Homo sapiens: one gene and its partner. The protein of the gene in region 1 interacts with the protein of each later gene in a pairwise test. Each region holds a gene or a part of one and is shown in the gene's direction. Other genes may lie near its edges.

Region 1 (16,637 bases):
TTCCTTAGAGGGAATAAGGCAGGTGAAAACATTGACAGTACCTGTGTAGATTACCTACCTTCATGTGTACTGATTAGGAATGGATGTTTTAAATACAGCTATATAAGGGAATTGGGGTGGCGGGGGAAGCAAATGATTGTTATTTATGTTGGTTGCTTATTTTTTCTTGTAGCTCCTGAGGAAGCGGCACATTGGAAATGATATCGTAACAATTGTTTTCCAAGAGCCTGGAGCACAGCCATTCAGCCCAAAAAACATCCGATCCCACTTCCAGCACGTTTTCGTCATCGTCAGGGTGCACAATCCGTGCTCTGACAGTGTCTGTTATAGGTGTGTATGGGTGTCACAGCAGGGGCTCTGTGGATGTTGGCTGGTTATCGCATAGAGGCCCCATTCAGCTCTGCATTCTAAAGTGGCAATGGGAAGTCTATTACTATTTCTTTTTGTCTTTAAACCATGCATGCGGATGGCTGAATTCACATGATGATGTAATCTGGTGGCATTGACATTACCCAAGCATGTTGGTTAGACACCTGCCGTTTCCATTTGCACCTCCTTCTTAGGTGATGTCCTTCATCCATACCATCTGGTCACCAACCAACTAATTACTCATATTGCTAATTATATTTTTCTTTTGGCATGGCAAGAGCAGAGAAGAACGATTATAATAAATAGGGAAGAGAAGTTAATTTTTTGAAAAGCATTGTTATTAAAGAAGCCTAAATCCTTGCCTCTGACTTACTTGATTCACGTTAGCACTCTGACTACAAGCTTAGAAACGCTTCTATACTTTATTTAGCATTATTGAAATTGTTTCAGTGTTACTTGTTGACGTAGTCACATGAGTATCAGAATTCAGGCCTCTATCTGCAGAGACCTTTCTTGTAAGAATACTAGAGTTAGGAGTTGAAGGAGATAGGGACCTGTCACGCTAGCTCGATAGGGGTGTAGTGCCAGAATGTGTAAGGGTAATGTTCTGGCATTTGTAAGATGTTTTTAATGTGCATCAGTTCCTTTCAAAATATGGACATTTGGCGTATCTTTCCATCCCTAAAAAATGTTACCTGCATAGAAAGTGACCTGTGCACATTGACAGTTTGTGAGATCCACAATTGTATATTTCTAGGAGTAAGGCAGATTAATTCTAGGAGTAGAGTAAGCGTAGCTTAGGGAAAAAAAACAAGTAGAGGTTATGTTGGTCTCCTGCTGGCTGTCACCATCCTTGCACATATCCTAATAACTGCATTGGTTGAGCTCTTGTTATAAGCCCCAAACTATTCTAGACATCTTACATGTATATCCCATTTAATCTTTAAAACCTATGAGGTAGGTACTGCTTTTATCTCCATTTTCAGATGATGAAATTTCAGCCAGGTCACTTGCCTCAGGTTAGCTGGCTAGTGTTGAGCAGAATTAGACAGGAATGCAGTCAGTTTGATTCTAGAGCCCAGTCTCTTAACCACGCTGCTATGCCGCCTCTCTTACATGCTGGGAAAGCTGGGTTTTTCACTCCGAGCTCCCAACACAGAGGCTGTTCCAGAACTTTTCAGGTGCTGAGCCTAGGTGAACACCCAAGACCAGGGAGGTCTGTAGTTTCCTAGGGTTGGGGCAGAACCCCCAACAATGAAGACCTAGATCTGAAACCTCTTATCAAGGAAATGGTGTCTGAGAGCTGCTCTGGTTAGTTGTAGAATGAAAGCACAGAACAATTGACTATAATTGGGATGGATAACTATTTGCATTTAGAAAATACTCTGAGCAGTTAAAACATGCTATGTACTAGATTCATGCAAAGGATTTCATACCACTTGACAGGTAGAAAGTTAAGCCCATTTTGAATGGGCACTTCAAAGTTTGGGGAGTGGAAAGCTATGCAGTTTCTTTTAAAGAGAGTTTCTTCTTTTCAAGCCTTTGTCTGAATCAGTACCGTCCAATGGGACTATAATGCAAGCTACATATTAATTTTACATTTTTTAATAGCCAGATTTTTTTAAAAAGTGCCAAGATATAGATGAAATTAATGTTGACACTGTTTTTGACCAATTTATACATTTTATTTACTCAGTATATCTAAATATTATTTCAACATGAATTAACATGTGATTTCAGCATTTAACAATTATTGTGACATCTTACATGGTTTTTTGGACTAAGTCTTTGTAACCTGAAGTACATTTTAGACTTACCGCATATCTCAATTAGAATGCTAAATTTTCATTGGTGATACTTGATGTATATTTAGATTTCATAAAATTTATAATGAAAAGGTAGATTTAATATACCTAGATTCTTCCAAATGGACTTTTAAAAATCTTTAAAATAACAGAATTAAGTATCCATTTTTAAATCATATATTAATTAAAATTTAATATAATTTGATATTCCTTGGTCACACTAGACACATTTCAAGTGCTCAATAGCCACAGCTGGCTGTGGCCACTGTAATGAACCACACAAGTCTAAACAGACTGCTCAGGGAGGTATGTTCTCCTTCTTCAGTGCTTTGTTTTTTTATTTTTATCATCCCTCCCCTGAAAATTAGGATTTTTGCTTTCTCTCTCTTATTTTTAATCTGTTGCCTGGAGAGCCCACCGTTTGAACCCCATCATTTAATGCTAGAAGTCTTTGCGGGAAGTGGGATACTGAACACCCCTGCTCAAGACATGTGGGCAGGTCTGGAATTTCCTAGTTACCAGGCTTGTTTGAAGGCCCAACACACAGCTTTTAAGCTGTGAATTTTGGCCTGTTTATAAATCCAAGAAAACATTAGTTTGTAACATCACTGAAAGAAATCACAAGAGATTATAGAGCAGTGACCTATGCCTATTGCAAACTTTAAAGATCAATAATTTTTTGCCATCCTTCTCAAAAGAGGCAGGCACACCTCCTCAGGTATGTGGTGATGTCAGGAAGTGTTTGAAGACACAGAATAAACAGGACACCTTTCTTCAAGCCTTTAATGTTGGGGGGAGGCAGGGTAAGGACGAGCTTATTTTCTCATGAAAATAAATGTATTATGAGGTAGAATGGAAAATATCAGTTTTCAGATAAAACATGGGTCTTCAAAGAATTTCTACACCTGTGAATTTTTCTCAAGCCCCAGCCACTCCCCGAACTACTAGGGATATGAATTTATAGGCCTGTTTTATTAGGGGTGGTTTGGTGGAAAAACTTAGACATGGGTTGATTTATACTCATTTTATTTAAATCTAATTTAATTTTATCCCTAAGTGATATAGCTAGAGTAACTCAAATGCTTTTTTAAAGTTTTTTTAATTTTTAAATTTTTGTGGGTACATAGTAGGTGTATATATTTTTGGGTTACATGAGATATTTTTATATAGGCATGCAGTGCATAATAATCACACCAGGGTAAATGGGGTATCCATCACCCCAAGCATTTATCCTTTGTGTTACAGACAATCTAGTTATACTCTTTTAGTTATTTTTAAACGTGCAATTAAATTATTTTTAGCTATAGTCACCCTGTTGTGCTAGCAAATAACTAGGTCATATTCATTCTTTCTATTTTTTGTACCCCAAGTGCTTTTTAGCATTTAAAACCTCTTGGTCCCAACTTTCTCCACCATGAACACACATATTTATTTACTTACACCTACCTGGTATCTGAACTGTGGAAAGGGGAGAAGTTTCCTTGAAAGAGTGTCTTGCAGTAATAGTGTGGAGAGGTGTGGGGTCATTACAGGCTGAAGTTATATGGATATTTATGAGAAGATGGGATTTGATGTGTGTGTTAAAGCATAGCTGGATGGAATTCAATGGGAAAAAGAGAAACCATTCTAGGAGTGGTCAGTGGAAAGGACAGAAGCCTAGAAATGGGAAGGAGGATGGAAAGTACAATAAAAAGGCCTACTAATGCAGAAAAGATGACCAGGCAGTAGAGGCCTCCAGAATGCTAGGCCATCAATTCAACACTACATAAGTAGAATTCCAGGAAAAATTATCCAGTGTTACCATGCTAGGTAATTTGTACACAGAAAGATAAATTTGGAGACTGTCATTATCCATTTATTTTTCATTAGTTCTTTATCCAGCCCTTAGCATATATGTGCTAGACACTACTCTGGACCCTGGGATATAACATGAGAACAAAGAGAGAAAAATCCCTATAGTGGATCTAGACATGAGATCTCAAAATAATGTGGTATTATACCTCCCTGGGGACTAGAAAGCTTATATAGGAATAACTGACTAATTCAGACTAATTCCAGAGGCCAGTTAATGTGAGTCATCATGTAGCCAAGAACTCAGAAATCAGTCACTAAGTCTGCATACTAAAGCTTATCCCATAACTGATGAGAGCCCTCCAGTCTCTATTGTTTTATTTGTATCGTTGCAGTGACCTTAATTATCTGATCCCAGTTGATAGAGAAGATTAGAAGCAAAAAAAAGAAGAAGGAGCTGTTAATAGCGAGTATATACTGGAAACAAATACTTGTTTATTGATAGAAGAGATGCTGAAAAACTATTCACATCAAAGATATGAATTCAATAAGCATAGCAATCTGGGGCCATTTGATTTTGGGGCAAACAGCCAAATATAGTAGTTCCTCCTTATCTGTTGGGGATATATTCCAAGACCCCCAGAGGATGCCCGAAACCATGGATAGTGCCTACCCCTATATATACTATGTTTGTTCCTATATGATAACGTTTAATTTCTAAATTAGGCACAGTAATATATTAACAGTAATTAATAAAATATAACAGTTATAACAATATACTTTAATAATAGTTATATGAATGTGGTCTCTCTCTCAAAATACCTCACTGTACTATACCACGGCTAACTGAAACCACAGAAAGTTAAAACCATAGATAAGGGGGAACTATTGTGTGCTTCAGTCACTCCTGAGGGCTTCACTGTGGAAACACAGTGTAAGATAATACCATTTTTCAACAACTACAGAATTAATGGATTTAAGCATTGATCATCAAAGGATGCAAATACTATAAAAAGAGACAAATATGTGCCTCATAATGGAAGAATACAACCTCACCTATGAATTATTTTTGCTACCCCCTAAAAAAAATTAAATCTGAATCTGATCAAGCTTCCAGAAAAGCCAATTTATAGGAAATACAAAAGACAGAGGAACATGTTTGTAGTTGACAAAATTCAGACCCTGAATAACTCTGCAGACACAATGCCCCATTTCTTCAACAAGTAAGTTGCAAGAAATAGTGAGGAAGTGGAGGGGAATCTACAGAATAAAACATTTTTTAAAGCTAAATTAATTGCAATGTGTGGATCCTATTTGGATCCCAATTTAGACAAAAAGACTATAAAGAAAATCCTAGGACATCCTAAACAATTGTAAATTGGAACATTGACACACTATTTGATGAAATAAAAGAGTTGTTATTCATTTTAAAACTAAAATAGTAATAAGTAGTCATAACAAGGACCCTGATTGTTCAAAACAAATATTAAACTGTGGTCAGTAGGTATGTTTAGGAAGGTAGAAATATGTGTTACTCCTCTCAGAGAGGTTTCCATACCCGGTAATTAAAATGTAATAACTGTTGAAAGGAATCTGTATGATATAGTACAAAAAGCACTTGGAATTAGACCAAATTGTTAAACAGTGCAGTGGGAAGTTGCTTGACATCCACTTAAAATCCTATTAAGTAAAATGTCTAGCATAGGCAGGGAGGAAGCGTGATGCATGTCCATTAAATGTCTGTGTTCATCCTCTTTCCTCTCTGTAAAAAAAAAAAAAAAAAAAAAAGAATTTGCAAGCTTCAGCTGAGAAGAAGAAAAATCCAAGTAGGTCAAGTGATAGAAATTTCTTTCAGAAGGTCTATTTCAAGCCTCAATTAATCAGCATCCCTATTGTCCACTGCAGCTGACCTTTCTAAGACAAGAATCTGATTATGTCATTTATTGTGCTTAAAAGCATTTAGAGGAAAGTTCAGACTTGCAAGCATAGCTTACTGCATGGGGGCTTCAGGTTTGGCCTCCTGTCTCTCAGTCTCATCTACCAGTCTGCACCCCATGCCTACCTCACTCCTTTGGAGCTACTCACCACTCCCCAGAACAGCATGCTCTGCCCCTCCGCTCTGCACATGCTGCTCCTCTCACACATTCCCCTTTCCCTCCATCTGATGAATTCCTGCTTTTCTTTTTTCTGAGAAGGCTCCCTGGACCTCCCAGGACTAAAGTGCCTTTCCTAAGTGCTACCAGTAGCACCCTGTACTTCGCAAGTAGGAGACTCAAATCACTGGCTGTGGCTCCCACCAGACTTTGAGTTTCTGGAGGGCTGAGCCCGGGACATCTTCAGCCTTGATCCTCAGCAAAGGCAAAGTGCCTAGCACATAGTAGGTACTCAGTGACTGGTGGATCAATACTATTAGAAATCGAGAGAATGATTGGCACGTGTTTGATCTTTCCTGTCCTTTGCCCAGATCTGCTTTCTTGGAAGCTGCCCTGGCCAGTAATCTGATTCAGGCTCCAAGAAGAGGAAACTTCCTTCTCCCATTTGATGTTTTCTGTATCACCTTCCTTTTAAATTTTGGGCTGGGGATTGTTGATTATTGCTGTTTTTCCATTGTGCTTCCAAAGTTCAAATGTCTTATATTTCTCAATTTTTATCCACTAAACTGTTCAGAAGTCTTTGAAACAGGCCGGGCGTGTTGGCTCATGCCTGTAATCCCAGCAATTTGGAAGGCTGAGGCAGGCGGATCATGAAGTCAGGAGATCGAGACCATCCTGGCTAACACAGTGAAACCCTGTCTCTACTAAAAATACAAAAAATTAGCCAGGCGAGATGGCGGGCCCCTGTAGTTCCAGCTTCTGGGGAGGCTGAGGCAGGAGAATTGCTTGAACCCAGGAGGCAGAGGTTGCAGTGAGCCGAGATCGCGCCACTGCACTCCAGCCTGGGCAACAGAGTGAGACTCCGTCTCAAAAAAAAAAAAAGTCTTTGGAACATTTTCATGTGTCAGCTTGAAGTTGGCTTTGGGTATCAACACTTGTTATTTCATTCAAGCTCTTTGATGCCAACCAATGTTACATGGCCCATATCGAGTAGAAATAGCCTCATCATCTCTTAGGCCATGTGACCCATGTGAATGGTCCCTTTTAGCAGGCACCTCAGGAGTAGGAGGTTTGAAAGCACTTCCTCAGAGGGAGTAAGTGTGGGCTTGTCGTGGAGCACTCTCTTGGCTGTCCAGAAGCTTACATTCCAATCCTGGCTCTCTCTAACAAATCTGGGTAAATCCTTTTACTTCTCTGTATCTGTTCCTGGAGAAGTGAAGAATTTGTACCAGCTGCTCAACCGGAGGTTCATGAAGATGTCAAACCACAGAATACAAACAAGACACCTTCCTGGTCGCTCAGTGTACCCAAAGATTTTGGAGTGAGAAGATATTTTTATATGAAAATGAACACAAATATTTTTCAGTAGAATGTAAAATCGAGGTGAATTTTCAAATGAAACCCAAAGATTTTACTGAAAGAATTTGAGGAACATTGAGTTCTGTTAAGTTCCCTTCCTGTGATAACTTTCCATCACTGTTTTAGCCTCTAGCTCTGTCTGTCTGTCATCTAGATAACCCTGCTGAGTAGAACATTCCAGTCCTCAACAATGCTGGGTAAATAAAGCATGGCTATGATTTTAAAGCATGTATTATTTCCAAGAAGACACAGAATTGCCAACTAGGCTAATATACATACAGCCAAGCAGAGGCCCTTTGGAATCTGCTTTTAAAAATACCAAGAACCGTTTATAATTAATATATCTTAAGTAACTACATGCAGCAAACTGAGATTCTAGAAAGGCTTTTTTTCTAAATATTCTGTTTAGCTTAAACCAGGCCTTATTATCAAGAGTTCAGAATTTGTGGCATCTAAATTAATGAGCTTTTAACCTTGTAGAAACCTTGCCAGTTTGATTTATCCAAAACAAAATCATTTATTTGAAAAGAGCATTCCAGGGTATCATCTTCCTCATCTTCTGTAAGGATTCTATTTCTGACTATGCGAAGCTGATTTCAGTGCCTGTATCATTTACCTCCCTACCACAGTGAATCATTGAAAATTATATGGTAAGGATTCAGTTCTTTTCCTCACAGTTCATTATAGCTGTTTCTAATTATTGGTAGGTTTTCAGTGTATGTTTGTCTAAAGTTCTATCAATTAATAAATGGATCTGCAGAAAGCCAGTTAGTTTAAGGGGCAAGTAGATGGAGGGTGCTTAAAATCACACCCCCTGCTAAACATTTTGCTCTCCTTATTTAAAATAAAATCACAGATATTTTCTGAGAAGGAATAACAATTTGAGTGAAATAGCAGATGAGAAGTTGCCAATTTTAAAGTGAAAGATATTAAATATTTCTGGATTCTTACAGGATTCCACTTAGAAAAATCTAGCAAACCTGGATTTCAGCATCTTTTGCTTGACTTTAAGAGAAAAATAACACGATCAAATTAAAATTATACAGCTGTCAGCGTTCAAGTCAGGCAGTTCACAATAGACAAGAAAAATTGCCTTCCTAATACATATTGGTATAATTAAGCCATATGGAAGTCTCTGAATTCTCTCCTCCAGTTAGAAAATGGAGTGTTGGTTGCCACTGTTCTTTGTCATGAAGTGAACTAGGTAGTCTTTTAAAAATACACTTGTAAAACCAACAGATAGGCCATCCCATGGCATCTTCTGAGCATGTAGCTTTTCCATTCCACCAGAAATATAATTTGCCTCCTGAGGTTGCTGATTTTTATTTTTCTTATTTTCACAAGAAATAACTATTTCTTGAAAAACAAAGCTGAATATCTTAAAGCAAACCCTTCCTAAAGAAAAAAAAGTGAAACAGAGCTCTTCAATTTTATTTGAAAGATGCATACTCTCTGATGATGCCATTTCTATTCCAAGAGTTCAGAAGAAACCGATTTTTTTATTGTTTCCCTAATACTAAGTATAATTGCATAATTTGTTCACTTTTAATTTGGAAAGAGCGATCTTCGATGTGTTAGAATCATTTCCAGTCATGTCAAACTTTACTAAAATCTTGGGAAATGATATAAAACACTCAACCTCTCTATTTCTATATCAACAACTTCCTTTGTTGTTTTAGGAGAAACTTACTTTTTTTCCTTTTGAGGTTAAAAATAATAAGTTATTACAAATGTTCATATGATCCTTTTCTTAGGCCCAATTTTAGGAATATATAGTCAGAAGAAATGACTGGAACAGGCTTTCTTATATCAATCTTGCTTAAAGGAATGGGAGAAGGAAAATATTTTTCTTAGAAATAGATTATCAGAATAAAATACCAAAAGGACCAAGGAATAGCTCAGTTTAAAAATATGATTTTAAAGCGTTGTTGCTATTACATAAAGATTCTCATACTATTACTCAGATTCCAATTTTCATTTTAAAATTATGCTTTTAATCTGGTTGCATAATGCCTCACACTTAGGCCAACAAATACTAGTTAAGTTTTATTGAAATTTAATTCATTTCTTTTATGGCATGCATCTTCTGATATTTTCAATGTAAGCTGTCTGCTTATAGCCATCATATCTAAAATGGAGAACACATTTGTGTTCTCACAGAATGTATGCTTGTTCTGAAAGATGATGTGGTTACAGTAACCTCCCTTGAAAACAGTTAGTAGGTATTTAAAATGTCTTACACAGAATATTACAGTAAACCTATTTTTTTTCATGGAGTTTTGGTCAGTTTCCTGTCTGGTAAAAAAAAAGTTAATAGTGTTAGCTTTTGGGATTTTGGGAGGTTTGTTTTTGGCCTAGAAAAAAAATTATGTTGTGTAAATCCTAAATGCGGTAGAATGAAAAAATATACTCGTATTAAGCAGAAATGTGTGTTGTTTCTCATGGAAAAATAAGCAGCTATTTTGTATCTGAGGTACATCTTTGTCTTTGAGAAAGTATATTTTATTCTGATGTTGTGAGACTGAGAAATACTGACGTGGCTCTCTTTGATCTTTGTCTCTCAGTGTGGCTGTTACCAGGTCCAGAGATGTGCCTTCCTTTGGGCCTCCCATTCCTAAAGGGGTCACTTTCCCTAAGTCAAATGTGTTCAGGGACTTCCTTTTGGCGAAAGTGATTAATGCAGAAAATGCTGCTCATAAATCGGAGAAGTTTCGGGCCATGGCAACTCGGACCCGCCAGGAATACCTGAAAGATCTGGCAGAAAAGAATGTCACCAACACCCCTATCGACCCTTCTGGCAAGTTTCCGTTCATCTCTCTGGCTTCCAAGAAGAAGGAAAAGTCTAAGCCATATCCAGGAGCCGAGCTCAGCAGCATGGGGGCCATTGTATGGGCAGTCCGGGCTGAAGACTACAACAAGGCCATGGAACTAGACTGCCTTTTAGGGATCTCCAATGAGTTCATTGTGCTCATTGAACAGGAAACAAAGAGCGTGGTCTTCAATTGTTCCTGTAGAGATGTGATAGGGTGGACTTCAACTGACACCAGCCTCAAAATCTTCTATGAACGAGGAGAATGTGTTTCAGTGGGTAGTTTTATTAACATTGAGGAGATCAAAGAGATTGTCAAAAGGTTGCAGGTGAGTCTCTCCTTCCTCTTCCTTACATGCAGTTTCTCTTTCATAAAGTTTTCAATACAGACTAGAGCCAAGTTACTGAACCTTGTGCTCTGTTATTAGCTCCTCTGAAAACTCCCTTGATGTGTGAAGCAAACAGAGTTTATCTCATGCTTGTGTTTTCCATGGATGTTTCGGAAAAGTAGAACAAATTGGGGAAGACACATTTACTCTGTGTGTGTGTGTGTGTGTGTGTGTGTGTGTGTGTGTGTGTGCGTTCATGTTCAAAACCCATTTGCATGTGACCTGTTCCCTGGTGCTGCAGTCCAGTCATCTGGTGGTGGTGTTGAAAAGAATTGCTTGAGTATCTGCTGCCTTGAATTTTACAAAGGCTAAATGAGTAGCAGTATATGGTTTCTATTTACTGCCAGCTCCCTGTAGGTCTCTGGTAGAGGTTTCCTTGTAACTTCAGGGAAGCCGTTGAGCTTTTTGGATGCAACAAGTATATTCCTTTTGGCCTAATGAATAGGAGATTAGTGAAGAGGAAATAACCAGACTGCTCTTCAGCTGGCAATAAGGTATTCAGAACTAACCCTGCTTGCAATGATTTTCCAGTTCCATGTCCACCACTTAATACCCTATTGCTTTAAACCACAGTATCTTTTATTTCCTTGTCTAGTTTGTTTCAAAAGGCTGTGAATCGGTGGAGATGACTCTGCGAAGAAATGGGCTAGGACAGCTTGGCTTCCATGTCAACTATGAGGGCATTGTGGCGGATGTGGAGCCCTACGGTTATGCCTGGCAGGCAGGGCTGAGGCAGGGCAGTCGCCTGGTGGAGATCTGCAAGGTGGCGGTAGCCACTCTGAGCCATGAGCAGATGATCGACCTCCTGAGAACATCTGTCACGGTGAAGGTTGTCATCATTCCCCCGCATGATGACTGCACCCCGCGGAGGTAGGTCTGAGGAGACAGCTGTGGGCCTGAGACTCGAGTGCAGGGTTTGTGTACCATGTAGAACATCTCTTAGCAGGTAGTGGAGTAGGGTGTTGTGAAGAACAATAGGTTACATGTGATGCTGAATGTTTCATCCATGGAGTCTGACTCAGGACGAAGCTCCCTTTCAGTGTGTGGTGACAGCAGCTGGAAAGAGTGACTAAATGGGACCATTCCCAGGATTTACATCACTGGATTTATAAAGTTGCCATGACAGATAGAGAAGTCTGGTAATATCTATCTTAAGAATTTTCCACTGGGAGCTGAGAAACATTGAACACATTGAACATTAAAAGACACTCAACATCTCAAATTGTCAGATTGCTTTTCTTCTATGTTCCATGATGCTCTTATTCTCTTCTCTCTCCTAATTGCTGCCCAAAACTCAGCAATTGTTTGGACCTTTGCTGTCTCAGTCTGGCAGCTGCTTTCCTAACTGTATCTGCATGTGCTAGGGTTTGGCTTCAGGTGAGCTGCCCCTGCTCATGGTGCTTTGGCATTTTGGTTCCTAGTCTTTTCCAGAAGGGAAAACCTAAGAGCTCCCTGCCCCACCCAACCCCCCACAGCTCCTGCCAAGCCAGCAGCACTGTTGAAAATTTAATTTCTCTGTCTCTGGGGAGGTTTATTGGTGGAAGAAATTTAATCAACTGTTTATTTTCTCCTTTGGACATGCACATGCTATTTTTGCTAGTTTTTAAGATCTCTCTTTTTAGTTTATGCCATTATTTTCTAAGAATTTCTCTTAAGCTTTGGCAATTGATTCTTAGGCTTTCTAAAGCCAAGACAGTGTTCTGTGTCCTATTTTGCCACTAAGATGACCAGTCCTACACCTGAGCTCTCATGGATTTGTGAATATCAGATGGTAGAAAGTTAATGGTTATGATAGGCTATTTGTGTCTTTTAAAAAGTAAAGAGCAGCAAATATATATGTGTGTGTGTGTGCGTGTGTGTGTTTTATATACTTTGCTCAGGATAGTATTTCCTAATACTGCTTACCTCCTAGATGGCCTAGGGATTATGTATATATGTCAAAATATAGAAAAATTCCTTTGTCTGATAGTTTGAAGAACTTCCTTTTGGATGACTGCATTTCCCTGGAAATCAAAATATGAACTTTTAATTTCACCTGTTTTGGAGAGGAGTAAATATTCAGAAACTGCCCTACCCACATACCCTGCCTTAGTTAACCAGGTCTAATGAACCTTATTAGCCTTTTCTGGTTTCCCCAAGCATATCATCATTAAATGTTAAGTAATGTGCTGAACTGTGATTTAAAAAATAATGTGAGGTGGCTCAGAAAGGCAGTGGGGTTCTTGCTTATGACAGTCTCCAGTCTTGCTGCATTCCTTGTCTTGTCTCTTTCTCTGCTGTCTCTCCTTCAAATTGTCTACTTTATTGCTTCTGAACAGACAATTATAAATGGGAGAAGATAGCCAAGCTTTGTAAATTGTCAACCTTAATTACCTACAGTAAAGAGTTACAGATGTTAGTCTAAGGACCGTCTACTGAAATATGGAGCCCTTGACCTTATGATGCCATCTTGCCCACTCAGAAGTCTTTCCCTTGTATCTAGGCTCCCAGGTTTATATGCGGGAAAGGAGAGGGAAATGGGTTTGTGTGACTGTGGGTGGGATGAGACAACAGTACAGACATCGAAATTGGAAATAGCTGTTACTAGAAAGATGGATAAGAGGCCTGATCCTGGATAGATGGAGCCATGATAGGAGGAATACTAGACTAGATATATTGTGGTGTGTCAGTGAAAATAACTAATATACTGAGTTTTTTACCTTAATATGCCAGGCCCTGAAAAAAGCACTTTTTTATGGGTTAGTGCATTTAATTCTCATAACAACCCTCTCTTGTGATAGTGTTAGTAGCATTCCTGTTTTTTTTTTGTTTTTTTTTGTTTTTTTTTTTTTAGACGGAGTCTCGCTCTGTCGCCCAGGCTGGAGTGCAGTGGCGGGGTCTCGGCTCACTGCAAGCTCCGCCTCCCGGGTTCACGCCATTCTCCTGCCTCAGCCTCCCAAGTAGCTGGGACTACAGGCGCCCGCCACTACGCCCGGCTAATTTTTTGTATTTTTAGTAGAGACGGGGTTTCACCGTTTTAGCCGGGATGGTCTCGATCTCCTGACCTCGTGATCCGCCCGCCTCGGCCTCCCAAAGTGCTGGGATTACAGGCGTGAGCCACCGCGCCCGGCCGCATTCCTGTTTTAAAAGAAACCGGGACTCAAAGGTTAGTAACTTGCTAAGCTCATCTGACAAATTTAGGTCTAACATCAGAGTCCAGGCTCTGAACTGCCACGTTGTGTGCTTAGAGCACAGATCCTTTCCTTATACACTAGAATCAGCAGTGATGTGCTGGTGAGTTGGCTTTCTGCTGGGGTGAAGAAAACTTTATTTGTAGTATTTGCTGATTTCTATGGTGCAGATACTCCCACTGTGGCTGGTTCCAAGCTACCGATGTGATGTCACTGCAGGCAGCATTGGGGTAGATGGGATGATTACCAGCTCCAGCACACCAGGGAGTGAATGAGCTGTCACACCGCTGTGACGCTCTCAGGCCTTCCCGGAGGAGCCAGTGGAGCTGCCAGTGACATGTCACTTGGGTGCCAGGAGGGGAGGCTGGGGGAAGGATTAGTGCACTGCACAGCCCCACCAGCCTGGAGGGAGACACAGGGCCCCTTTCACTACAGTTTCCATCTGAAAAGCCATACAGTTTCCATCTGAAAAGCCATACAGTTTCCATCTGAAAAGCCATACAGTTTCCATCTGAAAAGTCAGACCTGGGCAGGGCAGGTGGGAAATGCCTTGATGCCTTTGGAGGGCTGAAAGCCTGCTCCTTTCTCCTTTCTTTAGAGATAACTTCAAAGGGAACAGCTGAAGCATTAACACCTTGTTACAATTTTCAACAAAATAGAATAATGCTCTTGTGTCATTTTTTTCTTCTCCTCCGCACTTCACACTCCCACTGCTGTTTTTGTAGCAACTAATTACTCTGTTCTTTGAATAGTCATTCTCTTCTTTGTCAGCTGGGACTTCACCACCAGTCACTGCAGCTGCAGCGAGAGGCAGGACAGGCCTCCTTGAGGCAAGCTGCTCCTCTACCCCTCAGCCTGGTGGTTCTTAGGGTCGCCAGGACCCAGAGAGGGACACAAGCAAGGGGGTGCGGGAGGTGATGACTGTATGTAATACAAACACCCCCAGGATCTAATACAAACACAAATGGATTTGTGTGTTCACATGGGAGAGTCATTCATTTTGAAAATGCAGCTTTTAAAATATATATAATAGTTCAACAACAAAAAAGTAGTACTTAAATAACATGTAAAAGCCTGTAATCCCAACAGTTTGGGAGGCCGAGGCTGGTGAATCATTTGAGGTCAGGAGTTTGAGACCAGCCTGAGCAACATGGTGAGGCTGGTCTCAAACTCCTGACCTCAAATGATTCACCAGCCTTCTCTACTAAAAATACAAAAAAAATTAGGGGGGCGTGCTGGCACATGCCTGTAGTCTCAGCTACTTGGGGGCTGAGGTAGGAGAATCACTTGACCCAGGAGGCAGAGGTTGCAATGAGCTGAGATCGTGCCATTGCACTCCAGCCTGGGCGACGGAGGTAGACTCCATCTCAAAAAAATAAGAATAAATAAATAAAATAACATGTAAAACAAGGCTCTCTTCCCTGTTCTTGGAAAATATGCAGACCCCTTATGAATCGTTTCCAAACTACAATTTTTTTAAGAGAAGAAAGGACAGGGACAGTATAGCAAACTTTCTGAGCCCCTACTAGGTGCCAGGCATTTTCCTTTTTTTTTTTTTTTTAAGTATATATACTTTAAGTTCTAGGATACATGTGTGCAACGTGCAGGTTTGTTACATATGTATACATGTGCCATGTTGGTGTGCTGCACCCATTAACTCATCATTTACATTAGGTATATCTCCTAATGCTATCCCTCCCCCCTCCCCCCACCCCATGACAGGCCCCAGTGTGTGCTGTTCCCCTTCCTGTGTCCAAGTGTTCTCATTATTCAGTTCCCACCTATGAGTAAGAACATGTGGTGTTTGGTTTTTTTGTCCTTGTGATAGTTTGCTGAGAATGATGGTTTCCAGCATCTTCTATGTCCCTACAAAGGACATTAATTCATCCTTTTTTACGGCTGCATAGTATTCCATGGTGTACATGTGCCACATTTTCTTAATCCAGTCTATCATTGGTGGACATTTGGGTTGGTTCCAAGTCTTGCTATTGTGAATAGTGCCGCAATAAACATATGTGTGCATGTGTCTTTATAGCAGCATGATTTATAATCCTTTGGGTGTATACCCAGTAATGGGATGTCTGGGAAATGGTATTTCTAGTTCTAGATCCTTGAGGAACCACCACACTGACTTCCACAATGGTTGAACTAGTTTACACTCCCACCAACAGTGTAAAAGTGTTCCTATTTCTCCACATCCTCTCCAGCAGCTGTTGTTTCCTCATTTTTTAATGATCGCCATTCTAACTGGTGTGAGATGGTATTTCATTGTGGTTTTGATTTGCATTTCTCTGATGGCCAGTGATGATGAGCATTTTTTCATGTGTCTGTTGGCTGCATAAATGTCTTCTTTTGCGAAGTGTCTGTTCATATCCTTTGCCAAATTTTGATGGGGTTGTTTGATTTTTTCTTGTAAATTTGTTTAAGTTCTTTGTAGATTCTGGATGTTAGCCCTTTGTCAGATGGGTAGATTGTAAAAATGTTCTCCCATTCTGTAGGTTGCCTGTTCACTCTGATAGTAGTTTATTTTGGTGTGCAGAAGCTCTTTAGTTTAATTAGATCCCATTTGTCTATTTTGGCTTTTGTTGCCATTACTTTTGGTGTTTTAGTCATGAAGTCCTTGCCCTTGCGTATGTCCTGAATGGTATTGCCTAGGTTTTCTTCTAGGGTTTTTATGGTTTTGGGTCTAACATTTAGGTCTTTAATCCATCTTGAATTAATTTTTGTATAAGGTGTAAGGAAGGGATCCAGTTTCAGCTTCCTACATATGGCTAGCCAGTTTTCCCAGCATCATTTATTAAATAGGGAATCCTGTGCCCATTTCTAGTTTTTGTCAAGTTTGTCAAAGATCA
Region 2 (12,191 bases), on another chromosome or scaffold:
AGGACACATGAAACAATAACTACAAAGGAAAATATTAACAAATTGAATTACATTAACATTTAAGTTTTCTGTTTATCAAAAAAATGAAGAAGGAACAAAGGTTAATTACAGATGGGGGAAATATTTTAATACATATAACTGCACAAGCAATCATACCCGGAAAATGTAAAGAGTCCCTACAATTGATTTTAAAAGACAAGTAATCAAATTATTTAAAAATGGGCAAAAGACTTGAATAGACCCTTTTTAAAAGAGGATATCCTAACGGCCTATAAATACATGAATTAGGTACCTAACATAATTGGTCATCTGGAAATTAAAAAATAAAATGTTAATGAGATAGCAGTGAAACCAACTAGAATATCTAAAATTAAAATGATTGATAAATTTTTTTGGCCAGAAAGAGAGAAATTCTCACACACTGTTTTTCAGTGTATAAATAGTGACAACTTTGGAAATCTCTTTGTCAACAACTACTAAAATTAACCCATGACCCAGCAATTCCATTCCTAGGCATGAACCCAGTGGAATTGTGTACATATTTGCAACAAATAACATGTACAATGTTTATAAGACATTATTTGTAAGAGTCCAATACTGAAAACAATACAAATGTTTATCAACAATTGACTAGATAAATATTGGTAAATTTATAAAACTGAATTCAACATTGACAATGAACAAAATCACTGCTGCATGCAACATGGATGGATTTCACAAACATAAAGTTGAACAAAAGAAGGCGGACACAGAGTAGAACATACTGAATTATACCACTTATCTAGATAGCAAAAACAAGCAAAATTAGTTTTGGTAGTTTGAAATCAAGTTATTAATTAAATTTATGGAGGAGAGAATAGAAAATGACTAGAAGGAATAGGAGTTTAATATTCTAATATTTTATCTTGGTGAAAGTCATAAGGGTATGTTCATCTTTTGAAATTCATCAAGATCAAGACTTACGTTTTCTGTCTTGTATTATGTTATTTTATAATAAATACGTTTATTTAAACATACTGCCAGTATTAAATCACTAGAAATCTAGAATATTCCTTTTTTCTTATCCTAACATCCTATTTGGAAAGCAGGTTCACTTTGCACTGGTTACCAACTTGTCTGAGTTTGATGAGACAGAGCACACTCATAAACAACAAGTTACATGATGGAGATTTATTATTTACAAATCGGAAGCAAGGGACAACAGATGCCTGGGATCCATTGTAAACAGGTCCCCCAAGCCCCAAGAAAACTGCCTAGAATGGATGGAGCCTTGGCTGTGAGTGGCCCACTTGCCCCACAGCTGACAGACCTTAAAAGGCAGTCCGCCCTGGGTTATATATCTAAAGGGCCATGGAACTCACTGGGCAACAATTTGAAGGACGTCCTACTTCCTGGAGAGAGAGGAGCAAAGCCTGGGCTGTCCCAGGCAGTTAATTCATAACTGAAGATGTTATATTTCCTAGGGGGAACAGGAGCCAAGGCCTGGGCTATTTCACGCATTCCTCTCTATTTCAAGATATTGCATTCTCAGCAAATTCTGTCATTATTCTTGAGAACTAGAAGAAAAAGGCAGGGGGAACTCAGTGCATTAAAAGCTTCCTGGAGAATTGTCCCGCACTATCCAAGATTTATTTCTACCTAAAATGTATCGAGATGTATCTGTTTAGGGTGACGTATTCTTGCTGTCTCTATTGTGATTTCTCTTCTTATATTCAATTTCTCAAAAAGTAGACTCTAGAATAATGTCTGTATCTTATATTTATAGTTTTCTACATTTGAAAAGTACCACAATAGAATGGTACAGTGAACAAGAATATGGACTTTAGTTTCAGAAAGATTTGGTCCTCACTCTATCAGGAGCGGTCTACAAGTTTGAAGGCAAGATGGGTAGCATCTCCAAGCCATAGTTGGTTGAAAGACAAAGAGAATGAAAGTGAGAGCAAGCCTGTGTGTGTGTGTGTGTGTGTGTGTGTGTGTGTGTGTGTGTGTGAGAGAGAGAGAGAGAATGTCTAATTTTCAAGGTTGTAATGGATAAAGAAATATATATGTAAAATCATCTGCCAAATGGTCTCTTATAATAGTATTATGCATAACTATATTTTTCCATCCTCTATCATGCATCCTGTACTAGTTTCCCAGGTTTATCATAAACTATCACAAATTGGGTGGTTTAAAATATAACTGGGTGGTTTTTATAACAATAAAACATTTATTCTCTCGGAATTCTGGAGGCTAGAAGGCTAAAATCAAGGTGTCAGCCAGGTTGGTTCTTTCCCTAGGAAAAATCTGTTCCATGCCTCTCTTTGAGTAGTCTGCTGGTTGCTGGCATTACCTGGCATTTCTTGGCTATATAGTTATATCACTGCAATTTGTCTTTGTCTTCATGATTCTCTTTCTTATATCTCCTCTGTGTTTTCAAATGTGTCTCTCCTTTTAAAGATGCCTGTCACTGGATTTAGGGCACACCCTAATCCAGTATGACCTTATCTTAATTTGATTACACCTGCAAAGACCCTATTTCCAAATAGTCACATTCATAGATAAGGTGAAGACTTCAACATATCTTTTAGGGGGACAATTCAACTCCCAACATATATCATGCAGGTACTACTATAGGAGAAGCTAAGAGATTTGTCTCTGTTGCCATACAAAGCAAGTAATAAGGCTGCAGCTAGAAACACATATAACTCAGAATTCAGTGCTTCTTGTAACATACCAAACTACTCAAAACAATTATCTTCATGTTCTAAAGGTCAACTTTTAATAGCAACTGTACTGTTTTATCTATCCTATGTGCTTGGCTGAATTTAGAACATGTAAATCAATCTTTTGAAATGTTTACTAGAGAGAATAACCACCCATGATTATGAGTTTGCATGTGTACGTGTATACAAAGCTGTGAAGGGAACAAACTGGTAGGCTGTGTGCCATTTCCAACCAGCAGAGAAGTCTATTTTGTCCTGCACAGTATTGTGGTAGTAGTGGTGATTATTTTTTAATAAGCCAAGATTTTAAAATCAGAAGATTTTACATAACATTTCAGATTTCCAGCTGCTCTTGTAAAATCGTAGGATCTGGCAACACCAGACTCACATGGTCACAAGCTGTTGCGGCCGCAGAGTGAACGCCATTTTTAGAGAAGTATGAACATTTTAGGTGTCCACACTGTCTGCCAATCCTCATTGTTTTCCCAGTTTGCCTACCTCACTCATGTATGTCAAACACCAGACACTGTTAAGCATTGCAGTCTGCTCTCCTTGTTCTAGAGAAAATTAAAGTGCCTCTACTGTACTATAACTTCATTCAATGGGATGTGTACATCAAGCATATACTTAAGGATGTAGTTTATTCCTATTTCACTGATCTTCTTTCCTCAGCAAGAGAAAAACTCTTATCAAAATAAAACTCTTCCCTATTCTGCTTCACGAGTCTCTTCAAAAACCTAAGATTTTTTTTTTTTTACATAAAATGCGGGTATTATTGCTCTAATTTGTGAAGTTACAATAAAATATCTACAACTTTCTGTATTCTTAAGATATCTATCTCTGTGGGTGTCTGTAGTATTAAATGAAAAAATGTAAGTAGGACAAATGGATGAGAAAGGCAAACAAAAATGAGAAGAAAACTCTGAAAAAAAAATGAGGTTTAAAGCTATATTAAGTAGGAGGAGGGCAGTAGCTGGAAAACTGGTAAGAATTGAATATTTTTAAAAATCCATAAGCCCAACATAAAATCAAATAGGATGTGTTTTAAAAGCAAACCACAAAATGTTTCGAGATGCCATCACAGAAAATTGATTCCACAGATTTCTAGGGGGCAGAAATAGGCTAAAAAGAAGCAAAGATATTATAATAAGACTCTTGAATTTCACTGACATCCATAACTCATCACAAATCCCTTGCTCTTTTCTTAAAAGTCATAGTAAGGAATATTAAATAGCACTGGCTAAATTAAACAGATTAACTAGTTGCAGGCACCCAATAAAAATAAATTGGAAGCCACATTGTGATGAATGAGATAATTCCTTTTCTGGAGCCTAGCAGTTGAGAATGGCAGGCTTGAGTGTAGAGTTAGGTTGTGGGGAAGAAAGTTCTGTTCACAAGAAGAGAAATAAGTCATTAGAGGGGGTAATAATGACAGGCTGAAGTGTGCAACTAAATCACTGATCGAGGAAACATAAACCCTCTGGCAGGGACTTTTCACAGACTTCATCTAGCGACAGCTATTCTTCCTCAGAAAGATTTTTCCTCATTGTGGGGGAAGGAGGGGTGGAAGTAAACACAGAGGAACACACTCAGGTGTAAGTGCTGCCCTAGATTTAAAAACACTGCCCATCAAACACGCTGCAGGGTTTCCACATTGAAGCCTTTCTAGCAGGTGCATCGTTCAAAACTTAACTACTGTTCTCAAGGACCTATCTACGTGCTTTCTCTACTGCTGCTTGATACCTTAATAATTATCATTACATTAATGATTTGCAGCCATTTTAAATCACATTCTACCTTCTGATTACAGAAAATTTACATACTCAAGGAAAAGTAGCCTAATTTTACTATGTTTAAGATTTTTTCAAGTAGTAAGAAAGTATTTAACATACTGAGTTTGCTTATTTCTCCTGAAAGTTACTTAGTAAGCTTAATAGGAAATTATGTGTCTTTTTGTACATGTAAATCCTAGTCTGTTTATTCCATTTTATAGCTGAGTCTCAAACCCTAGACTTGATTACATTTCCTTGCATTTTTAAATTCATCTAGTTGTAAAATAAATTTTATATGGCAGCATGTTCAATATCTATTCTTAAACTTTTGTAACCAGAAAACTCTAATTGGTTCATATAAAGAAAACTAGAGACATTTAACTGCAAACAAAAAATGGATTATATTATTAAAATAAAGTCATGAGCTAAACAATAGAATTCCAATTGTGCAGCACTGATAATGTAATTGGTTAGAGAAATTTGATAGCAATCTGAAATTTAGTTGAATTAGCACGTAATATTTTCCTGATACTGTGATTATTTTAGTAAAAGTGGCTTCATTTTGATCATCTATAGGACAGTAAATAGAAAATCCCCTCAGCGATAAATCTTACTGTTTTTTTTGAGTTGTTTCTCATCTTAAGTGAAAATGCATTTAATGTATATCAACTGGTATTTTTCCTCATTGTTACCATGTGTTTCTTCTTCTACCCCTTATATCAGTAAAGCACCCTTCATAACTGATATCAATATTGGAATTCATAGGTATCTCAAAGCTTCCACTTTACCTTAATGTTAATTGAGAAAGTAGGTGTTTACATTGATTTCCTAATGTTAAAGCACAGGGTCTGATTGCAGCAATAAACACAGAGCATCTCTGCTGCATTCGTTTCTCAGTCAAAAAAAATCTTACTACTTAGTTTCATTTATTTTTAGTGTAGCATTAGTCTCCATGTTAGAATTCTCATTAATATTAATAACCTATGGAAATATACTTGCTTTAGGTGAGCATGCATTTCCATTTTCATTGATGCAAAATGTTTACCAGTTTATGGCATGAGATATTATTTATGTTTCCATATTTGGGTTGCCACAAATTCTCCCAATCAGACATAATCATAAACAAGCACCTTGATTTCGCAGTTACCTCATTTGTTCTGAGTGGTAGCTAGGGGCAGGAGTTGAAATCCTTAACATATTTCTGTAGCCTAAAATTAGTAGATTCCCTAAGGTGATTCAGGAGGAATTAATCCTACTTCCCACCTTCTAGAAAAATACTAGATTGTTCTTACAAATGTTAGATTGCTTCAAATTCAGATCTACAGGAATCACCTCACATCTTGCCCAGAAACAAACAAAAAAGGTAGTAACATTGAAAACACGTCACCTATAATATGTAACAAAGTACATGAATATCATATATTTCATACAGTATTAGTCATTAAGGAATGTTATGGCAAAATTCTGGAGTTGACTGTTTAGTTTCCTAGACTCCTCTTGATGAAAGTCTTAGAAAGGAAAAGGAATGAACAATTACGGGCATCTGCATTCTGCCAAGCACTTTGCTACGTATATCTGATGATCCGTTCAAAGTCAGTGTAGCAAGGGGGTTAAGATTACAGAATTGAGTTTGGATTTTTCCTCACACTGTTGCTTGCTTACTAGACTTTGACTATCTGGACTAATCTCTCTATGCTTCACTTTTTCTCATTGGTAAAATGAGTGAAATCCTAGAACCTACCTCTTAGAGTTGCTGTGAGGTTAGAATAAGTTAATGTAAGTAAAGCACTTGGAGCACTGTTTGGCGAGGAGTAGGCACAAAATTAACATTCAATGTTGACATTATCTCCACCAAGTCATATAAATGGAGATGCCATTATCTTTATTTTACTGATGACAAAACTGCCACTTAGAGAGTTGAAGTAATTTATGGAGAAACAACAGAAAAACTCATACTTTAAAATAAATTAACAACTTTTATCATTAAATTATGTTGTGATATTTGCATTCTAAGCTACAAACTGATACTTTTCTCTATGCATATTTACTGAAAAAAAAAAGATCCTGGGGCTGTCCACTTCCTTGGACTACATACAGTAAGTACCTTAAACCTGATTGCAAAGGGGATTACTCCAATACATCATCTATTCCTTCAGTTTATATAGTTTGTGTGTGTGTGTCAGGGAGGCAGTGGTGAAGAGATGTGGGAACACTGGTCTTTTTAATCTGAAAATTCACACATGCAGCATAAGAATGTCAACATTTTTTTTAAATCAAAACACCACAGAAGACATCTCAAGGAAAACCTTGATTCAGTGGAAACACTGTGTAGCCCAATTAAAGATAAAATAAAAATTCACAAAGACGAAATGAAATAAAGTAGGAAATTGTTCAGATCACATGCACTGGTGGTAAATAATGAGTTTTTATGAATCCAGGTAAAAGGCAGTGCTTTGACTCTTAAGAGTGCCTCTAGCACTACCATAATGTTCACTGATGCATGTTCACACCAGATCTTAAGAGCATCATGGAACCAAGTTAGACTTGATTTTTGAAAGTGGGCTGTCCATTCCACTTACTTTTGCAATAAGCTTTAGCTCTATACTAAACACATCGCGGTGTACCTTCTGTACTATTTGTCCTATAACCTAATGGTAGGAAAAATTGAAAAAGGCCCTGAATTAACTAGACTGTTTTTTTGTTTCAAGTTCACTGAATGAATAATTTAGATAAGTAATTTTCTGAGTCTTAGTTTTACATCATTTAAAATTAAATTTTTGTTTTAAGAATCATGTTAACAGCTATTATTTCATTACATTCCCAAAGCAATCTTATGGAATAAGCTGACAATGACTAATACCTCTATTTTATAGTCAAAGAATTCGAGTTTCAGAGAAATTCCTTCCATTGAGTCAAACAGAACACAGAGTGGGTTGTAGTTGATAAATATAGCCAAAATTCCACAATTTGGAATCCACAATTCCAAATATGTTATGTTTATTTATTCATTTCATCTTCACAACATCAAACACATGAAGAGGGAGCTATTATTATATCCATTTTACAGATGAGGTGACTGAGGCAGCATAAGATTAAGTATCTTGCTGAGGTTACAACTAATAAATGGCAGAGATTGAATTGAAGCTCAGACAATCTATTTCCCAAACATGTAACCACTTGACAAAACTGCCTCTCTAAGGGCGATAAACATATTAAAACCTGTGATACCCGCCTTCAGGTTATTTAGACCCTTTTACAAAAGTAGTGAAAGTATAAATCGGCTTATCATAGGAATGAGTTCTAGTTTTTTGGAAGAATATACATATTGTAATTGTAATATATATTATTTTGATGTTCCCAAATTTATCTAGTTCTTAAATTCTTGCTCTATAGGGCCTGGAGGCCAAAAATAGTCTTGCCTTACAGTATTTGAGGTTCAGACTATTAGGTCTGTGGCGTTGCAATAAAAATGTCTGTATCTGCTCCAAAACTAACCCAGGCTAGGAATATACAGGAATAGGAATTTAAATGTCCATAGGGTGCAAACCATAATTTAAAGCCACAGACCCCGAACTCCTCTACCACCTAATCTGTAAGCTCCCTTAGATTTAACCCCTTTCTCACCAAACCCAGCAATGCCTATTGGGCATGCCCAGTTGCATGGTTAGAGCCTCACACCCAGTTTTACTTTCACCAGGTTTTACCAGCTGCAAAAGGGAGGAGGAGACGGAGGGAAGAGTTAAACAGGTAGAAAACTTGGTTCAAGACAGAGCACAGAAGGCTGGAGAATGACGACAGGCTGCAGTAAAAAGCACCTTGTCAGACACAGTTGATCGTCGTCTGCAAGTTGGCATCTTACCCTGGTGGGTTCCTTTTACATCTTTTTGGCACAGCCTAGGCAAGTCATGAAGATTTGTTGTGATTACCCAAGGCAGAGCCACAGTAAGGGGTGGGGCAAGGGACATCGGATCTAGAAGAATGCCAGTGCCTGTGTGAGTCTTGCTTGCCCCTGCATTCCTCGAAAAGCTGCAGCTTCTTTTCAAGGGTTCCGAGCAGGAGACCAAGGTGCACAAGTAAAGCCAGAGCTCATCATAATTATCGACTCCTTGGCCCCTTCTCTTTGACTGCTGGACCCTTTCCTGGCACCCTCTCAGGTATCCCCGCCCAATCACTACCAAACCCCGGAGAAGTGGAATCTCCATACAGCTTTCCATGGGTCTAGCAGGGGCCTGGGCATGCTCAGTAGGCTACGTGGTTCTCTGGTTCGTGTTCGTTCGTTCTCTCTCTCTCTCTCTCTCTCTCTCTCTCTCTCTCTCTCTCTTTCTTTCTTTCCGATGGGGAAGAGAGGGTGGTGACAAGTTAGAAGCGCTTGCGGAAGGTCCCCGCCCCCAGGATCAGGCTCCCCCTGCAAGGGGACGATGCAAAGGTAAAAGCACCTCGCTCCGCAGCATCCAGACCTGGAGGGGCTGCGACCACGGGCCGAGCCCACCCATTCCCCAGCCAAAGGACGGGCCCGCCGCTCTCCATGGTACTGCGGAGAGCTCAGCTCCGCCCTTCTCTTTCAGAAGGACAGCACCCGGCGTCACGTAACCCAGCCTTCTCAGGCTCCACCACCGCCTTTTCCTTCCCAGCTCTTTCCCTCTCCTCCCCCTCCTCCTCCTTCTCCTCCTCCTCCTCCTCCTGCTCCCCTCCGTTGCCTGTTCTCCCCTCCCGCACTCCTGGAGATAGACGCTCAAGCCTGACGCCTCTGAAAAGGCAGCAGCAGTCGCCTTATCCATAGACCTCAGGAAATTCGCTTTGACCGATGCATGCTTCAGGCTCTGGCTCGAGCTGAGGGGAATAACCGGGCAGGTAAAGAAGCTCAATTTGGGTTGGGGGGAGGGGATGGGGCGAGGCAAGCTGAAGAAGGATATCTTTCCCCATTGTAACTGAGCCAGGATCTGCCACAAATACACAGGGAAAGATGGGTGGTGGGAGGGTGGAGGAGTGTAGATCTTGGTTGTTTTGCATGAAGCCTTTTAAATAGATGGCAAGAAGAGATGGTGGAACTGGGGTAGTAACTTAAAGGCTGAATGCAGTGATGTATTAGCAAAAGAAAGAAAATAAGAGACAGGCTAGATATCAAAGCAATAAAATATCTCTCCATATATTTCCTTCCCTACCTCATCAGCCCCACACTGTGCCCATCGTTAATTTGTGCAGTAGACCCCGAGCTCCAAGAAACTGCACTGGTATTAGAGATGGAGCTTAGAGACTGGGCGGGAAAGCCAGAGAGAATTTTGGCTGTGCATTGGTATTGAGAGACTTTGCAAAAGCCAGGGGTGAAATAATAAGCACTTCTAAAATTTCTCTCAGAGATTTCATGTTCTTTATGAAGATATATATATATATTGAAGGGTGCATGGAAAGGTGTAGGTGTGTATGTGTGTGTGATATCAGAAACATTAAAATATGCAACTGCAGCCGATGAGCGTACTGTATTGATCCTCCTAGTGACTTGGGATGAATTTGATTCTAGAAATGAAAGAAAAGATTAATGATGCTGTTAGTCTGCTTTTGAATTAGAGCGCTTCTTCTTTTGGCTGCAGTAAGGATGTTTTTCAGATCCCTTTATTTCATCCTCTAATTTGTGAACTGGCCAGGTCTTTCTGGCACCTAGAGAGAATCCTCTTTTCTCCATATAAATACAGATACTCGCTCACATACAATGAGCTTCCTCCAAGAACTGGGAAAACCAGTTAACCTCCCTGTGATAAGAATGTATATATATCTATATGTACATATATATTGCTCTACGGTTTTTCTCTCTTCCACCATCCCTTAAAATTGTCAAGGTGTGCATTAGTGGAGGAGGGCAGGAGGGACGGGAGAAAAAAGGTTATGTGATCAATGTAACATTAATTAATACAATAATTGGCTCCAACAGAGTTACACACACAAGAAAAAAAAAAAGGTTTTCTAACACATGAGCTTGAGAAAGGGTTCAAAGCACTACTCTTGATCATGATATTCCAGATTTATTTTGCAAATGACTGAAAATTTAGCAGATTCCTGAGTCCACTTAAAATATGAAAGTATACTGAATAATATGCTATTTCAGATGATTTGACGAGCCTCTTTCCTCGGGTTTGATATAGGAGAAGACAAGATATGACTGGTGATTGCTGATGGTGTGGAATGTATCAGCCATAATAAATAAGCAACTGAGATTTTTATTTCCTTTTGCTAGTGGGCAGTGTGTATGTGCGCACACCCACACTGTGTGTGTGTGTGTGTGTGTGTGTGTGTGTGTGTGTTGAAAGAGAGAGAACCAGTCATCAATTTCATCTGGGAGGAACTTGAAGTGGGATACCCTAGCTTGGTGGCTCTCAGCTGACACCTGTGGGGATTGCTCTGTACTGAAGAGAAATGCTCTCAGCTCCCCCCATGGAGAAGCAGCAGCACAATGCGGTGCCATAAATTACTGCTAGTTTCAGCTTGTAAGGGAAAAAAAGTGTTAATTGGGTAGTGAGCTTCTACATCCAGACAATAAATTTGGGGTGTGTGTGTGCATGTGTGTATGGTGTATATATATTGCAGTGTGTGTGTTTGCAAGAGGTGGGGAATATAAGAAATAGTGAGAAAAATAATGCACTTCCTTGACATGAACAGATTATACATTTGTAATTTTTTTCAAAAGGTAAGAGTAATTTTTTGGTTAAAAAATGACTTAGGAAAAAAATCAGTGATTATGATTTCTGTACCATTTCAAGAACCTGTCAGATTAGAGTTGAATAAAGAGAAGTGATTTAATAGTATAGTGAGTGATTCAAAGGTACGGTTTTAAATTCTAGCATCCTGGAGCCACTGCAGCTGAGATGACATACATGCCAACAGCTCTTCTGACCACACAAATTGTGAGGGCTGACAGCAAGATACAGACTTCAGGAGGAGTTAGATCTACACTTTTAGGCAAAATATTAAATACTTTATGCACCTTTAGAGAAGTTAATATTAGGGCAATTGAGACAATGCCAAAAACATAAATCTGGCTCCAATTAGTGGTTTTCTTTTACAACAGATTATTCATTAATATAAAGGAGAACTATACTTGTGTGAAATTTTGCAAGAGACTATCAAGAAACCATCAATATTCCTTCTAAGAAAAATAAAATGGCAGGAATGCTATACAAGTCTAAGCTGGCAGCTTCCTGCCAACAGTTTAATCTAATTTGCCAATTGTAAAATCTCTTAACTGAGATTTGAATAGGTTGTATTTTTACTGTCCACAGAACAAGCACACAACATAGGTAGAAATCCTTAAAAGCATTTGTTCTCCCCTCACATATTTTAAAAATTAAACTATCTTGCGAAAAGAAAAAGATAACCATAATCAAATTTCTCTTTAAAACTTCGGGTTACCAACTAACAGTTATAATAAACTACAAGGGTGTCATGGCTGACTGTAAAAGTGTCATATTAACTATTAGAAAATGTTAGGACTTACTTGTAGTGAGGATAACAAAAGCTCCATACAAGAAGGTTAACTCTTTGCCTTACTAATAGGACCAGGTCTACACTTGTGTTATGAGCTGAATAATGATTTATATAATACTATATTGACTTTAGACCTTAATTTTGACTTTAATTCTCTGCAGATGTCTGAGTCCTTAAAAAAGACAAGATAAAACCAAAATGCATCACCAACACACAACCAATTGATGTGCTGGCATCT

What was found.
Region 2: the proteins of SIPA1L1 (region 1) and NRXN1 interact in a two-hybrid assay, tested with the Homo sapiens proteins (one study listed by BioGRID).

What each region holds. Positions count from the first base shown.
Region 1 is NC_000014.9:71,661,138-71,677,774, forward strand, and holds part of SIPA1L1 (signal-induced proliferation-associated 1-like protein 1), read left to right. Parts: intron 1-172; coding exon 173-330; intron 331-9,981; coding exon 9,982-10,555; intron 10,556-11,210; coding exon 11,211-11,485; intron 11,486-16,637.
Region 2 is NC_000002.12:51,029,118-51,041,308, reverse strand, and holds the start of NRXN1 (neurexin-1 isoform alpha4 precursor), read left to right. Parts: upstream 1-9,176; 5' UTR 9,177-9,328; intron 9,329-12,114; 5' UTR 12,115-12,191.